2 separate regions of the Homo sapiens genome follow, and region 1 is linked to region 2. Evidence: fine-mapped expression QTL. A gene starts in region 2. The other region holds a variant in brackets. All regions are shown on one strand. Distances are from middle to middle. Region 1 holds the start of SEPSECS (Sep (O-phosphoserine) tRNA:Sec (selenocysteine) tRNA synthase). Region 2 holds the start of PI4K2B (phosphatidylinositol 4-kinase type 2 beta).

The links.
Region 1: its variant is fine-mapped to the expression of PI4K2B in whole blood (INTERVAL, PIP above 0.99).

Annotation. Positions count from the first base shown.
Region 1 is chr4:25,156,955-25,165,244 of GRCh38, reverse strand. It overlaps SEPSECS (Sep (O-phosphoserine) tRNA:Sec (selenocysteine) tRNA synthase), which reads left to right and starts at 4,796. Exons shown (of 11, transcript NM_016955.4): 1 at 4,796-4,989; 2 at 6,138-6,292; 3 at 8,271-8,290. The coding sequence starts at 4,876. It overlaps SEPSECS-DT (SEPSECS divergent transcript), which reads right to left and starts at 4,573. Exons shown (of 2, transcript NR_037934.1): 1 at 4,492-4,573. RefSeq lists an enhancer at 4,533-4,832 and a silencer at 4,943-5,112. The variant A/GTA (reference allele first, on the strand shown) is at 4,241.
Region 2 is chr4:25,230,584-25,238,917 of GRCh38, reverse strand. PI4K2B (phosphatidylinositol 4-kinase type 2 beta) reads right to left here and starts at 4,885. Exons shown (of 10, transcript NM_018323.4): 1 at 4,487-4,885. The coding sequence starts at 4,754. LOC105374535 (a long non-coding RNA gene) reads left to right here and starts at 5,053. Exons shown (of 4, transcript XR_925490.3): 1 at 5,053-5,129. RefSeq lists enhancers at 3,996-4,125, 4,058-4,557, 4,558-5,059 and silencers at 4,346-4,405, 4,446-4,685, 4,786-5,095.

The DNA.
Region 1 (8,290 bases), 74 kb after region 2:
TTTCAGACGCTTAAGTTTATTGGGGAAAAAGCGATCCTTGTAGATCCCTTCTCATGTCAGTCCAATCAGCTTTTCTTTAAATCCAAGATTTAACACCTGAGGATCTGGCCAATATATGTATACATTGATATATTTAGGTTAGGTAACCCTGAATCATATGCATTCAAATGAATCCTAAATTCTTCTATAAATAGTTGCTGGTCTTGTTTGGAAGTAGAGAAATTCTTGATTATTGCTCTTAATTCATCTTGGGTGCAAAGTTTAAATTCTGCAGTTGCCTGCATACCTGGCTTTTGAGGGGAGAGGGATCTTTAGAAGCAATTGACATTTTAGAGTTTTAGGAGAGTTGTTGGGAAAATGCAGGAGTCCTGGACAAGAGGAAGAGAAGGGGGGAGTTGATGGAAGGGAAGAAAGAGAGCTATCAGAAGGCTAAGGGATAAGAGGGACATCTGGATATAGGGAGCCAACGCAAAGGGGAAGATTTACTAGGAAATGAGTCTAGTTTGTTGTTGCTTAAGATGTCAAATTGCTTGTTAGCTTTAGCCAAAGCATCTTTTAGTGGAATAATTCTTGAATCAGAATTTCCTTTGGAGGCCTCTGTGTACCACTAAAAAACTGTTGCCCATCAAACCTAAGAAATCTTAATTCCCTTTCTTTTCTTGCCCATCAAATAAAAAATTTTGTCAAGTCAAGTGTTTCCCAGAGTGGCCACTGAAGGCCCAACTCCTCATTGCTGAAGTTATGCCACTTAGAGAGATAGGCACAAGCATTAGGATTGTAATGAGAGTATGTATAAGAAGCAGAAGTTTTTCCTGGTGGAGAGGATTTAGACTTAGAGCTGGCTACGGTGTTGAAAGTTATGCTCGTGCTTATCCTGTCTCAGTCCCCAGCCTGATTTTTGCCCCTTTTGAACACAGACCGAACAATCTGTGCCCCCTGGCAGGCAGAATATCAGAATGACCTCTTTCTTTGGATCAAAAGCAAGCCCTCAGAACAAAAAATCAAGATGAAGGGAGAACTTCATCCAGTTTTATTGGTGACCCACAACAAAATTTGTCCAAACGGATGTAGTCTGGTGAGAACTGCAAACTCATCGGTCTGTGAAACTGGCTTAAACAACAGGGTTGTAGGGCCCATGGCCATGTTCTACCCTATGATTCTCCTTCTTATGGAAAATAACACTTTTAGATAGCACAATACAAAACAGAAGTACAAAGGACAGCACAAAGGATGAAAAGGAATTGCCTGATTCCACTAAGGATGCAAATAGGAACCAGTAACAAAATCTGAGTACCAAACTTCAAATGAATAGCTTAGGAACTCAAGGCAAACAGGGAGGAGTTCCAAGCCAGCACTGACTTACCATGTTGGCATGGACTTGACAAGCCATAAGCAACAAGGCACGAGGAGCCCCTGTGGGCACCACAACTGGCCAAAGGCTGAGGTCCACCGCCATGGACAGCACAGACCATGTCTCAGTGAAGTCTCCAGGAAAACTGGAAATTCAGAGCGTGCTAGAGAAGGGAGTCAGTCACCATCATTTACATTTGTCAAGAGTCTCAAAGGCAGGCAGGGGAGTGGGAAAGCTTTATAGTGAAAGATTCAGGTACAGGGAAGAATTCAGGTGTGCCGATTGGAGGTGTTGGCAAGGAGAAGCTAGAGGTTGGCTAACTAGAAACAGGGCATCTTATGTAATTTAAGGAGGATATTTAGCTTTCTCTGGTTGGTCTTAAGTTAGAAGCGAGTAATAAAAGAGGGAAGCTGGCAGTCATTGCCCAAGTCTTAACCATTCTTGGCTGATTGCTGCAGAGGTGGTGGTTTGGAAGTCTAGTTGCTAGAGAGGTTGTGGGTGAGAGTTCTGTTATCACATATGATCTGGCCATTGTCCATTTGTATAGTCAGTCTATCTAGGGGAAGATGTCATTGAGCAATTACCTCTCATTTAATCATCATAACTGCCTCTTCCATATCCCCATTTTACAGATAAAGCAAAGCTCAGGAAGTTTGAGTAATGTATTTAAGGTTATACAACTAGTGACCCTAGCAGAATTTAAACCTGTGTGTTCTGGACCTATTTTAAATGATGCTTCATCTTGTAAAGACCATGAGGTTATTCTGATGTTGCCCTATTAAAAATAGTAATTACATACTATTATTAAAAATAGTAATTACATACTATTTTAAAATAGTAGTTACAAACTACTATTTTAAAATAATAATTACATACTATTTTTAATAGATAGCATCATTTAAAATAGGTCCAGAACACACAGGTTTAAATTCTGCTAGTGTCACTCATTGTATAACCTTAAATACATTACTCAAACTTCTTGAGCTTTGCTTTCCTGATCTGTAAAATGGGCATATGGATAAATACTTGTTGGGTGAGTGAATGGATGAAAGTAATTTTAGAATACTTCTCTTGAAATTGCTTCCAAAGCTGGTATCTTTTGAATACCTTTAATGAATGCATATCTTGACAATGACTAACTTTTTGGAAACAGACAAACATTTTTCTGAAGTAAGGTGGTGAATAAGGTAAGAGAAGAAGCTGGCTCAAAAACCTGGCGTGTCCATTCAGTAATGACATTAATTTTGGGATTTTTGCACATTTTGCATGTGATTGACAAAGCAGCTTTGAAGGCTTTTCCAAAGAAGAAGTTGCAAAAATAGTTGCATTTTGAGAATAGGAACACAACTTTCCAAAAGTTTGAAAAATACTCATTTTAGAAAGTATGCTAAATTCTTGTTGTTTTGTGGTTTACCTTTCTGTTTAAAGTAGTTAAATGCTCTATGTCATTCAACAAATATTTATCAAACAGCTATTATGTATTTAGTGCTGTGCTTTGAACACAGATATTGGTATAGCCCTTGTGAACCAGGAGTTCACAGTCTAGTTGAGACAGAAAATTAACAATTGAAATGCAATTCAACAAATACCATAAATAGACTGATTTATATTAATAGCTGGATGCCATGGGAACATGCAGTAGAAACAGTGATGAGCTGGTACATGTTGAACAACTGACTTCTAGGGGAGTGGGTTGGAGTGTAAGGGCCTGATTAGCGGTGTTTACTGATTTCCATGGTGTAAATGCTCCCACCATGGCCAACGTGACATCATCAAAAGAGGAGTTGGAAGATGTGCAGTAGTATAACATTACATTGAATTTCCACCATATAGATAAAATGCATGTAAATAACCTGAAGAGCATAGATAATAGTAAAATGTAAAATAATTAGGAAGTGACAAATTTTGAGTATTTTTACTTTTGCTTGTAATATAATTTTTGAGTGGCTGTATTTGAAAACTAGCTCACAAAATTACTGAACATTTAACAATCAGCTCTTGCAAGTGGGTGTGACTCAGTGCAAATGGACAAACCACCAGGTGAAAGCAATGTCAGGAATTACTGTAGGCTCACATAAGATGAAGATTGTAAGGAAACTGGAGGCAGGGATCTCCAGCAGTGAACCTCTAAGTTGTTGAACTGTTACAGCACTGCCAGGTTCCTATGCCGGCTGTGCAGAAACAGACCAGTATTCCGACAGCAGGCTTGCAGCAGAGAAAGTTTTAATAATCACAAGTTACAAGCCAGGAAACAGGAAGAGTTCTCAAGCTTCAATCCATTTCATCAAGGGGTTCTAGGCAAAGTTTTTTAAGGGGATTTGTGGAGGGTGAGGGGCTGGAAAATTTGGGGTTATCGATTCGTTGGGGTAAGGGAGATGAAATCATTAGGATGTGACAATTGCATTCCTCCATGAATCAGCTTTTTATTGGGCCTTCCAGACAAGTTGGCGTCCTTAGTTTTGTTGGTATGCGGGACCTAAAGAAGCAATGCAAACAGAAAGCTTATCTTCTCATAATGTCTTAGATTTTATCTTCAGAGCAGAAAAAGAATGAAGAGTCTTGTGACAAGGGCCACATTCTCCTGGGGTAGTAAGTAGCAACCAGCTACAAGAAAGTCGGCCACACTGCAAGCTGGCTTAATAACAGCAGCTGTAAGCCTAGTTGGATTTTTTTCCCCTCCTTAATCAATTTTACAAAATGTTCTTGGGGATAGTTTCAGAATGGTCAAACTAATTCATTAATTCAATATCAACTTTTTTTTTAGGCCCTACTTTATTCTGGGCACTGTTTTAGGTGCCCGGGGGAAGGGGGCACCGCAGCAAAAACCGAGGTCCTGCCGTTAGGTTAGAGAGTTTACATTCATGGGTATGGGTGTGTGTGTGTGTGTGT[A/GTA]TAAACAAACGTCTGGCATGTCACGTGGTGAGTAGTAAGTGCTATGGCTAAACAGTAGTGTCAAGGGGAAAATGAGTGGGGCACTGCTATTTCCTATGGGGTTGTGAGGCAGTAATAAGTGTGGAAATGTATCAAAGTAAAGATCGAAGGTTCTGGCATCTGACAGTTTGAATAAGGCGGAAGCACAGACCCTGCACAGATCTCAACCATCCAACAGGACTGAAACACAGAACTTGGAAAAACCCACGTACCTGCTTCTTACTCTGCTCGCCCGGTCTGCACAAGTGCAAAATCCTTTCCTGAAGTTTGTGTCAGGAACACCAGGGTTTAACTAGACGAATCAGCCGCAGCGGGGCGGGGCTAATTTCAGTCCTTCCTTTGCCAAAAGTCAGCGAAAAGCGCGGACTCCCTCGCGCATGCTCAAATACGCCAACTTCCTCCTGGAGCGCCATCTGAGAAGGTCTGCGCATGTGCACGAACGAGAAGTGTTTTTTTTGTTTTGTTTTGTTTTGTTTTGTTTTTTGTCCCAAGGCGCTGCCGTACCGTCCAGGCGGCGAGTTGCATTCTGGTTCCGTCGTGTGTCTGGCGTGTGGAGCTAGTGCTCCCGCTTATTCGCCACTGTCGCCACCGCTGTCATGAACCGCGAGAGCTTCGCGGCGGGAGAGCGGCTGGTGTCGCCGGCTTACGTGCGGCAGGGCTGTGAGGCCCGCCGCTCGCATGAGCACCTCATACGGCTGCTTCTGGAGAAGGTACCGAGCTGTCGGTCCCCTCCCCAGCCGCCGCGACCCCGGGGCTCTGGCTCCGCCGGGCGTCCCCGCTGGTGCTGCCTCACCGGCAGCTCTTCGCTGCTTGAGACTAGTCCCAAGTCTGTCTCAGCTTGGCTTGCCCTAGCTGACCGACTGCGGTCTGTGCCTTCTCAGCCTTGCCAAAGCCAGTGAAAGCCAAATGGTGTTGTTAGGAGGGGGTGTTGGGGTCGGGGTTTTGAGTCCCGCTGTTTCTAACTTCGGGATGCGGAAGTGAGGGAAAGTCCCAGTGTACTTTTTTATTCGCGGAAAGGGCAAAGTTCGCACCTCCATCTTTCACCAACCCTCAACGACTCAGAACACATAATGGTGTTTGTAGACTGTATGCTAACTCGAACCACGAGCTTTCCGCGGAACTTCACAGGTCTCCCTCCTGCCAGCGTTCATGTATTTTAATTTCATTAAAAGTTTTGTTGTGTTTTGTTTTTTTGAAACAGAGTCTCGCTCTTTCGCCCAGGCTGGAATGCAGTGTGACGATCTCGGCTCACTGCAGCCTCCGCCTCCCGGGTTCACGCCATTCGCCTGCCTCAGCCTCCCGAGTAGCTGGGACTACAGGCGCCCGCCACCACACCCGGTTAATGTTTGTATTTTTAGTAGAGATGGGGTTTCACCATGTTGGCCAGGCTGATCTCAAACTCCTGACTTCAAGTGATCGGCCATTCTTGGCCTTCCAAAGTGCTCGGATTACAGGCGTGAGTGAGCTACAGCGCGTGGCCAAAATTTCACTGAAGTTTGACAACTACCGCCCTTCTCCACGTCCCACCGCCCCAGTCGTAACGCCCTGGTTTGAAGCATCTTCACTGGGGATGTGTTGTATTGGTTTTCAGTTAGTTTCACTTACGGAAATTTAAATATCTCAGTAAACCTCATTGTATGCATTTATCATCACTTCTCGAAATCTGTAAATAATTGTAATCAAATGTACAAACGTTTTGCCTCTTTGCGGTCTCTATACAGTGGTGAATTTATGCTTGAATTTTAGAAAACAAGCAGCGTGGCAAAATACACGTTAAAAAGAAAAACTGTATTCCTGTAGTATTCTAGAGAACGGTAGTTTTATTAAATATAATCATAAGTTTTTTTTTTTTTTTAAGGGCAAGTGTCCAGAGAATGGCTGGGATGAAAGTACACTTGAACTCTTTTTACATGAACTTGCAATCATGGACAGCAACAATTTCTTAGGCAATTGTGGTGTGGGAGAAAGGGAAGGGAGAGTGGCATCCGCACTGGTTGCTCGTCGTCATTACAGGTATCTTTTTTTAAGTAGTACAGGAGATACATCGTTTATTTATTTTTGGTTCAAAATAATGGCAGCAGTATTTATCTTATTAGATTATCAAATGTCAGTTTGTAAACCACTTCTTCCCTGCTCTAATGGATATGTAAGCCAAATGCAACAGGGAGATGGAAACAATTTTATCTCAGCAGGTGCTTTTCAAAGACAATAGAGTAAAAACTAAGTGGGGGTTACCCTGTCAGGTTCTGGGTGACTAACACAGGCTATACGTTTTCTTAGGAACGGTTACCCTAATAAACATATCTGGTTGTAAGAGTTCAAAATCCATTAAGGTTGTTTATAGCTTTCCATATTTCTTTTCTAACATTTGTAGTGTTTTTTTTTTTTGAATGATTTATAGTTATCAACTTTAAATTTTGTTTTAAACTGTGTTTAAACTGAATCTCATTTTATAAATACCTCTGTTGCAATAGATACAGGGAAAGGTGTATTAGATTATTAAGTGACCTTTTTCTTTTGCATTATTGCAGAAAGCTTTTCATCAATTCTGATAACGATTTAATTGGTAGTTAATTGGTAGTTAATATGATCACTCATTGCTCTGTCCACTAACCTTTCTGTGAAGTGTAAACTCTTTTAAATGAAACTCCTGTCTTCCATGCTTTTACATTATAATGAAAATTTCCTGGGCATCGTAGAATTTGTATTTCAGTAAAAACCACTGCAGTCAAAACTGATGATAATGCCTAACTTGGATGAAAATTTCAGTTAACAGTTTGCTGATAACATGGTTGATAATATATGTAAGAAATGTTTTGTACATGAGATTTCAGTGGTGAGGAAGTACAGCACTAGTATTCTTCGATAATCCTCCTATACCGAATTTCTGATATATTTGACTGTCAATTAGAAATTACTCAAATTACGAAAGGGTTTTTTATTTTAAAGAGTATTGAGAGGTATCTTTAAACAATGTATAATATTGTCTAATTTAAAATGAGATTTGCACACTGATTTTCTAGGAGCATATAGTTCTTTTAAAATTAAGGCAATATTTGAACCATCATTGGAACTTAGCCCAGTGTGGAATTAGGGGAAAAGTAAAGAAAAAAGATAATTTGGCCGGGCACGGTGGCTCACGCCGGTAATCTCAGCACTTTGGGAGGCCAAGGCGGGCGGATCACGAGGTCAGGAGATCCACACCATCCTGGCTAACATGGTGAAACCCCGTCTCTACTAAAAATACAAAAAAATTAGCCGGGCGTGGTGGCGGGCGCCTGTAGTCCCAGCTACACGGGAGGCTGAGGCAGGAGAATGGCGGGAACCTGGGAGGTGGAGCTTGCAATGAGCCGAGATCGCGCCACTGCACTCCAGCCTGGGCGACAGAGCGAGACTCCGTCTCAAAACGAAAAAAAAAAAAAAAAAGATAATTTAATATTTCATGTATTCTAGTTTTCTATTGCTACAGAACAAACCACCCTAAAATTAAGTGGCTTAAAACATTTATTGTTACCTCTCATAGCTTTTTGGATTAACTGGGCTCAGCAGGGTGAGTATTGCTTTGGGTCTGTCATGTAGTTGCAGTCAGATACTGGCTGAGAGTTTAGTCATCTGAAGGTTTGCCTAGCATGAAAATTTCACACAGTTACTTCTGCTAGATTCTTCCTGGCCAAGCAAGTTACTAAATTCAGCCCAGATTCAAGTGGAGAGGAAGTAGACTCCATCTCTTGGTGTGGGAGTAGCATGTGGGCATAGGGAGAAAAAGAATTGATGGTGGCCGTCTTTGGAAACTAGCTATCACAGCATAATTGATGAAATTATTTCAATTTAAGTAGGAGAGTTCCACATCATTAATAGTTTGTGACATATATCTGTAACAGCCAAATATTGCTCCTGGTGTTTTTTTGGTTATTACATTTGCATATTTGTACATTGTATTACTCGGAATGCTGAATGTATTTGTCCAGTTTTTGGCCCATTTTTTGCTTAGGTTCATTCATGGCATTGGAC
Region 2 (8,334 bases):
ATGGACCAATCAGCAGGATGTGGGTGGGGCCAGATAAGGGAATAAAAGCAGGCTGCCCGAACCAGCAGTGGCAACCTGCTCAGGTCCCCTTCCACACTGTGGAAGCTTTGTTCTTTCGCTCTTTGCAATAAATCTTGCTGCTGCTCACTCTTTGGGTCCACACTGCCTTTATGAGCTGTAACACTCACCGCAAAGGTCTGCAGCTTCACTCCTGAAGCCAGCGAGACCAGGAACCCACCAGGAGGAATGAACAACTCCAGACGCGCCAGCTTAAGAGCCATAACTCTCACCGTGAAGGTCGCAGCTTCACTCCTGAGCCAGCGAGACCACGAACCCACCAGAAGGAAGAAACTCCGAACACATCCGAACATCAGAAGGAACAAACTCCGAACACACCGCCTTTAAGAACTGTAACACTAACCGCGAGGGTCCATGGCTTCATTCTTGAAGTCAGTGAGACCAAGAACCCACCAATTCCGGACACAATAGCACCAGTAGTTAAAACCATTTCTGCTGAAATGGACTTTAGGGAAGTTATAAGAACTACCTTTATGAAATTAATCACTTTAATCACAGATATTGTTCAGCATACAGCATTCACCAAGAGACTGTGACAGGCTACCCTTTGTCTGTTCTGTTTTGGTTCAAATAACCAGTTTATTTTAACTGTATAGACCACATGATTGTGTTTCTCTCAAGTTAGCTGCTCAGTAATTTCAAAAATCAAATCTGTGGGTTGCCTGCATCAAGCATCTGAGGTACATCTTGTGTAATCTTACTCCAGGCTCCATCTTCTCATCTTTCTTCCTTTTAAATGATTTTCTTATTCTGTTCACATATTTATAAACCACCATGAATCATTAAATGACTTACAAATTCACATTTTCTTTTACTTTGGCAGCTCTTTGTGAATTCTAACACTGTTTTCTAACTGTTAGGCTCTCTAACAGGAGCTAAGCGCTCCTGATTTGTATTAACTGGGACCTTGGAGAAGTCACTTCACTTCTTTGTGCTTTTTCTTTTTTTCTTTTGAGACAGGGTCTTTTTCTGTAACCCAGGCTGGAGTATAGTGGTGCAATTATAGCTCACTGGACTCAGTGTAACCTGAAACTCATGGACTCAAGCAATCCTCCTGCCTCGGTCTCCTGAGTAGCTTGGACTACAGGTGTGCACCAAAGAGGCCTCCCAAAGTGTTAGGATTACAGGCGTAAGCCACCATGCCCAGCCTCTCCCTATACTTTCTTAAAATGAGAACAAGGCCAGGCATGGTGGCCTTGTAATCTCAGTGCTCTGGGAAGCCGAGGCGGGAGGATCATCTGAGGTCAGGAGTTCGAGACCAGCCTGACCAACATGGTGAAACCCCGTTTCTACTAAAAATACAAAATTAGCCAGGCATGTGCCTGTAATCCCAGCTACTTGGGAGGGTGAGGCAGGAGAATCGCTTGAACCTGGGGAGTGGAGGTTGCAGTTAGCCGAGATTACGCCATTACAATCCAGCCTGGGTGACAGGAATGAAACTCTGTTCCCCCACTGCCACCCCTACAGCCACCCACTGCCAAAAACAAAAAAAAAAAACAAAAATAGTACTCACATCACAGGGTTGGTTATGAATTAATATATATGAAGCATACAGAACTATGCCTAGCGCATATTAACTGCTATGTAGGCATTAGCTGTCATTACTACCGAATTCACTGATTAAAATAACTAGAACAAGGAATGCACTAATCCTTCCACTTTGACACTGATCCAACAACACTATGGTTTATGCTGTTTGTAGGCTTTGTTAAATGCCTTGTTGAAGATAACAGACATATGACATTCTTCCACTGGCTAAAGTACATAAACCTCTTGCTTATATAAGTAAGAGTTAAGCATCATAAATGATGTTCATATTAATCTAAAGGCAAGAATTTCTTGGAACTAGTGAGGTAGTTTCATGGAAATCGGATGGTAAAGGACAAATGAAGTTAATGGAGTCATTTAAAAAATAACTAAACTTAAAAAGTATTAAATTACTCAATCATGAACATTTTAGTCTTTAAAAATTTTTTAAACAGTTTTCACAGAAACTATTTTAAAGTCCTATTAAAGGTAAAAACCTCCAAAATAACCACAGACACAATTATTTTATAACACTTGTGGACCCATGGCAAAACGGAAAAGGGGCAGAAGATGAAGAAAGAACCAGGCTTCCTCCTGATTTATTACTTCCTGGATATTTGACTTCGGGCAAACCATTTACCTCTGAAGACCTGAGCTACCAGTCATTACCAGTTTATTAATTCTGAATCCTCATAATGAGAATAATGGCGAATAACAACTAACTTGCTGTGCTGTTGTGAAAATAATTAATTTTTTTTTTGAGACAAAGTCTCACTCTGTCACCCAGGCTGGAGTGCAGTGGAGCCATCTCTGCTCACTGCAACCTACACCTCTCGGGTTCAGAAGCGATTCTCCTGCCTCAGCCTCCCAAGTAGCTGGAATTGCAGGCGCCCGCCACCATGCCTGGCTAATTTTTCTATTTTTAGTAGAGGCAGGGTTTCACCATGTTGGCCAGGCTGGTCTGAAAACTCCTGACCTCAAATGATCCACCCACCTAGGCCTTCCAAAATGCTGGGATTACAGGCATGAGCCATGGCACCCAACAGAGAATAAAATTTATTTATTTATTTATTTATTTATTTATTTATTTATTTATTTATTTATTTTTGAGACAGAGTCTTGCTCTGTCTCAAGACAGAACCAGGCTGGAGTGCAGTGGAGAATAAAATATTTTTTTAAAAAAGATCTTAGCAAATTGTAAACTGTGATACAGGTAAGATATTACCTTTAAAAAAGGTAGGAATTCTAAGAATCCATTTGTATTCTAACACTATACTCTATCCTCACTTTGAATTTTTGTTGTTGTTGTTGTTTATTTTTTATAGAGATGGGGATCTCGCTATGTTGCCCAGGTGGGTCTCGAACTTCCAGCCTCAAGCTATTCTCCTGCCTAGACCTCCCAAAATGCTGGGATGGGATTACAGGCCTGCCATCTCGTTGACCTCTCGCTTTGATTTTTTTCTAGCCTTAATACTGTTTGTTTATAAAACACCTCACTTTCACAGAACAAGTGCATTTTGAAGGCTTTAGGCTCTTTTAAAAACCCAGGTACACAAGGTAGCTTACACAAGGTAAGGGACAGAAAAAGGCAAGCTAGCTATTTTACAGACTAAATTCTAAGTAACATATACCCAAATTGCCAATGTAGCTAGGCAAATGCAGACCCGTTTGTGATCTGGTTTCAGCTTCACGTTGTTTGGTTAAACGTCAATGCATCCATCAGGTAACATTATAACGGGAGCAGACGTTGGTTAAAGCTTAAACAATCAGACAAACTGCTCCCCTTGGGATTCTCTGATTTATTTACTCTAGAATATGCCTGAATGTAGCCTCTAGCTAGAACTTGAGTGACCGATTCTATCCAAAATTCTTTAAACTGTAAAGGACACATTAGTGTACCACTAACAGTACATTTAAAATCTAACAATTCCAAAAAAAACTAAGCAGTGTTAAAGAAACTTCCATTTTCTGTGGTTTTTAAGTTGTCATGTGTGAAGCGATAAACCAACCGGGTGCACAACATCTCATTTAATCCATCCTCACAACCAGCAGGGAGGTGTACCATCGCCTTTTTACAAACAAGTCTGTCTCACCTCTAGCTGAGAGTCTTACAAGTCTCTTGCTATTTCCATCACATTTGTCTAACTCCATTCAACACGCCAGAAAAACTCACTTTATTAATAAATATCCAGGCCTGCACAGCATACCTAAATTTAACCTTCAACATCATTTCAACTGCCCTGTTTCGCCTGAGGTTATCAGTCCGCTTAATAGCGAAAAGAGGTTTTTCGTTTTGGTTTTCTTATGTATTAGAAGTAAATCAAGAAAGAGAAACTAAACTGTAAGAGGGCAGGAACAGACTTTCAACTGCTTTTGCCCCCTGTGGCTAACTTCATAATAACAACATTTAATAGAAAAAGGTTTTGAAACGTGCCCCAGTGGCAACTGGATATTCTGGCTGTCCATCTCTCTCCTGTCATCCACTTTGCAAATTCACCACTCCGGGAACTTTCCTGAGAGTTCAAGGTTCTTAATTCAAAAGTCAAGTCCAAACTTGAGCAAGGACTTACGTCATTTTACAGCGTTAACCTCTCCCCAGTGTCGGTTTCTAGAAGTTTTGACTCACTTTGCGGGGAGGTCTAAAGAATCGGTTTAATGACAACCACTGGCCTTAGGAGAGGGAGCTCCCGGAGAAAGAGCGAGCAAGCTAGGTGCCCGCGGTGCGGCTGCGGCTGGCGCCGGTCCGAGCTCGGGAGCTGCTGCCCAGCGAGCGGGGAAAGCCCGTCCACCTCGGCCAGCGCGCGCGGGAGACAGGACCGAGCCGGGCGACAGGGGCAGCCGCCCGGAGGGGCGCGGGGAGTGGGGCAGGGCCGGGTCGCACCTGAAACCGCGGGGCGGCTCCGGTCCAGCTCGGCGGACGAACTCCGGGAGACCCCCACGTCCCCGGGCGGGAGGGGCAGCTCCTCGTCGCCGGCCTCGCCCTCCTCCCCGGCAGCGTCCAGCAGCCTCACGGCGCTGCCTGGGGCGCCTCTCCGCGGGTGGGCCCAGGCGATCCGCGGTAGCAGCGGCTCCCGCTCCCCATCCTCCTCCTCCTCCGGGCTCCCGCCGTCCGCGGACGCCAACCGGTCGGGCTCGGAGGGATCCTCCATGGACTCCCTCTGCTCCCTCCGCGCTGAGACCAGATCAGAGCAGCCAGGTGCCAGAGACTGGGCTCTGCATGGCGCGGAACGGGAGCGACCGGGTAGAACGGACGCCACCTCACCAGCGCACGGGCACGCTTGGCGCCCGCCCAGCGGTTGTCCCGCCTCGCCGCCGGCCGCGCCCCACCTCGCGCCTCCGCCAGGCACCACCCCCGCGCCTGCGCAGAAGGGTCGTGGCGGCGGCGGCGGCGGCAGCGGGGCACGTGGGAGTGAACAGGGGGCGGGGCTTTTGAGGGGTCAGGTGGGGTGGGGCCGCCACCTGCTTCCGTGAGCGCGGGGAGAAGCTGGGCACAGCTCGCTTTACTCCCAGTGGAGGGCGGGAAGGTGAGTAATTTTCAAAGAGGTGCCCTCCTGCAACCAAAAGCGGCTTCTCCCTGACAGAATTCTCTCTCAGAGTTTACCATAATCTGTAACTATAGATTTAATTGTATGACATTTCTTTCCTCCAGTAGACGTCCAGGAGGGCAGGGACCTTGTCTTTGTTCAGATATTCTTGATAGTGGCAGTTTGTATGTTTTCTTTTTCTGACTAATCTAGCTAGAAGTTTATCAATTTTTAAATCTTTTCAAAATGTCATGTTTTGGTTCCATTGATTTTCTGTTTTCTGGTCCATTGCCTTATTTTGCTCTTTATTGCTCACTTGAGTTTTGATTTCCTCTTCTTTTTCTAGTTGCTTAGAGTAGAAGATGATTGATTCTGGATCTTTCTGCTTTTCCAATGCTAGTATTTTAAGGCTATAAATTGCCCTCTAAGCACTGCTTTAGCTGAATTCTCCTTTTTTTTTTTCTTGGTGGTTGTTATTTTTGAGACAGGGTCTCACTTTGTTATCCAGGCTGGAGTGCAGTGACACAATCATAGCTCACTGCAGTCTCAACCTCCTAAGCTCAAGGGATCTTCTCAGCTTTAAACTGTAGAAGACACAGTAGCTGGAACTGCAGGTGTGCACGACCACATCCTGTTAATTTTTAAATTTAAATTTTTTGTAGAGATGGGATCTCACTGTTGCCCAGATTGGTCTTGAGCTCCTGGTCTCAAGCAGTCGTCCTGCTTCAGCATCCCAAAATTCTGGGATTACAAGCATAAGCCACCTTGCCTGGCCTGCTACTGTGCTTTTGTTTTCCTTCAGCTGAAAATAGTTTTTAATTTCCTTTATGATTTCCTCTTTGACCCTGTAAAGGAAAATAAAAATCTCAGAACCACCCCCCACCCCCAACTTGTTATGTCAAAGGGAGAGTTAAGCCTGGAGACTGAAGTCACTCAACACTACAATGCTTTTCCCAAATGGATAGCTGTTACTTCCCATAGTTGTATTAAAACTTTATATGTTAGCCAGACCCTCCTCAAAATGCAAAAAAAAGCCTTATGCATCTCAGTCTCAGGATGACTGTCCTCAACAAATTAATCATAGTAAATTCTTTACTGGCCCTTAAACCTTTCAAGATGTATATCCTTCCATAAAACAAGGACGTGTCAATTGTATAACTTTAAGTCTGCAACCTAAATCAAACTGGTACAACTAAAGTCTGTTAAATTTCACATGGATAAATTCAGTTACAAGCTTATCTTCCCAGATGCAGAACAAGGATAAGATCAATCATTCCTTCACCTGAGATATCTGTATAATTAACTTCCTTTACTCCATTTTCTTTGAATATTCACCTTATCTTATGCATAGCATAGAGTTACTGGGCACTACCTAAAGTCTAGCAAAAATGTAACCATTTGCTTCACCACCTACAACCCTCTTCCCTGATGCCTTCTCCGCTTTAAAGAAAGAATAGCTGTAATTACAGGTGCCTGCCACCATGCACGGCTAATTTTTGTATTTTTTAGTAGAGATAGGGTTTCACCACATTGGCCAGGCTGGTCTCGAACTCCTGACCTCAGATGATCCACCCGCCTCGGCCTCCCAAAGTGCTGGGATTACAGGTGTGAGGTACTGCACCTGGCCTGTAAATGCCTTTTAATTGGAGTTTGGGGTCCATTTACATTTAATGTAATAATGATGTGGTTGGATTTAGATCTATTATTTTGCAATTTGGGTTTTATTTGCTTTAACCTTTTCGGTTCCTCTGTTCCTCCTTTCCTGCCTTCGTTTGGATTAATTCAATAATTCTGATTATTTCATTTTCATTCCACCATTGACTTTCTGTTATACTTATTTTTTTTCTTTTTTTGAGATGGAGTTTCACTCTTGCTGCCCAGGTAGGAGTGCAGTGGTGCAATCTTGGCTCACTGCAACCTCTGTCTCCTGGGTTCAAGCTATTCTCCTGCCTCAGCCTTCTGAGTAACTGGGACTACAGGCACATGCCACCATGCCCAGCTAATTTTTGTATTTTTAGTAGAGACGAGGTTTCACCATGTTGGCCAAGATGTTCTTGATCTCCTGACCTTGTGATCCACCCACCTGAGCCTCCCAAAGTGCTAGGATTACAGGCATGAGCCACCACGCCTGGCCTCTGTTATACTTCTTTACATTAATTTTTAGTGCTTACACTAGGGTTTTCAATACTCATCCTTAAATTATCTCAGTGTACTAAGAGCCAATATTGTACTATTTGACATAAGAGGTAAGAACTTAGTGTCATTCCATTTATGCCCCATCGTTTATGTTATTGCTGTCATGTATACTAGACCTAAATATTTAAATACAGTGAATAATTTTTGCCTTAATTGCTTTTTTAGAGAAATTACCCACATAGTTACAACTTCCGGTGTTCTTCCTTCCTTTTTGTAGATCAGAGTTTCTATCTAGTATCATTTCCCTTTCCTCTGAAGAATTAAAAACAAATTTTATAATGCAGATTTGCTGATTAATATGGCTTGGCTGTGTCTCCACCAAATCTCATCTTCAATTCCCACGTGTTGTGGGAGGTGGGAGGTGGGAGGTGATTGAGTCATGGGGGCAGATCTTTCCAATACTGTTTTCATGATGGTAAGTGAGTCTCATGAGATCTGATGGTTTGAAAAACAGGAGTTTCCCTGCCCAAGCTCTCCTTGCCCGCTCCCATCCACGTTAGATGTGACTTTCTCCTCTTTGCCTTCCCCCATAATTGCAAGGCCTCCCCAGCCATGTGAAATTGTAAGTCCAGTAAACCTCTTTCTTTTGTAAATTGCCCAGTCTCAGGTATGTCCTCATCTGCAGCATGAAAACAGACTAATACACTGGTGATAAATTTAAGTTTTAATTTATTAGAAATTGTCTTTATTTTACCATCATTTTCAAATGCTATGTCCTCTGGATACAGACTTCTGGGTTGATATTGCTATCCTTACCCATCTAAGTTCAACTGTAAATATGTCATTCTATTGTCCTCTTGCCTTCATTGTTTTTGAATCATAACCCTTCACTTACACACCCGACTTGTGCTATGTCATTTTCTCTAGCTGCCTTTAAGATTTTCTCTGGTTCTTTGGTTCTTTGATTTTCAATAGTTTGACCATGATGTTTTTGGTATGATTTTCTTTACAAATATCTTGCTTAGGTTTTGCTTTACTTCTTGAATCTGTAGATTTATGTTTTCCACAA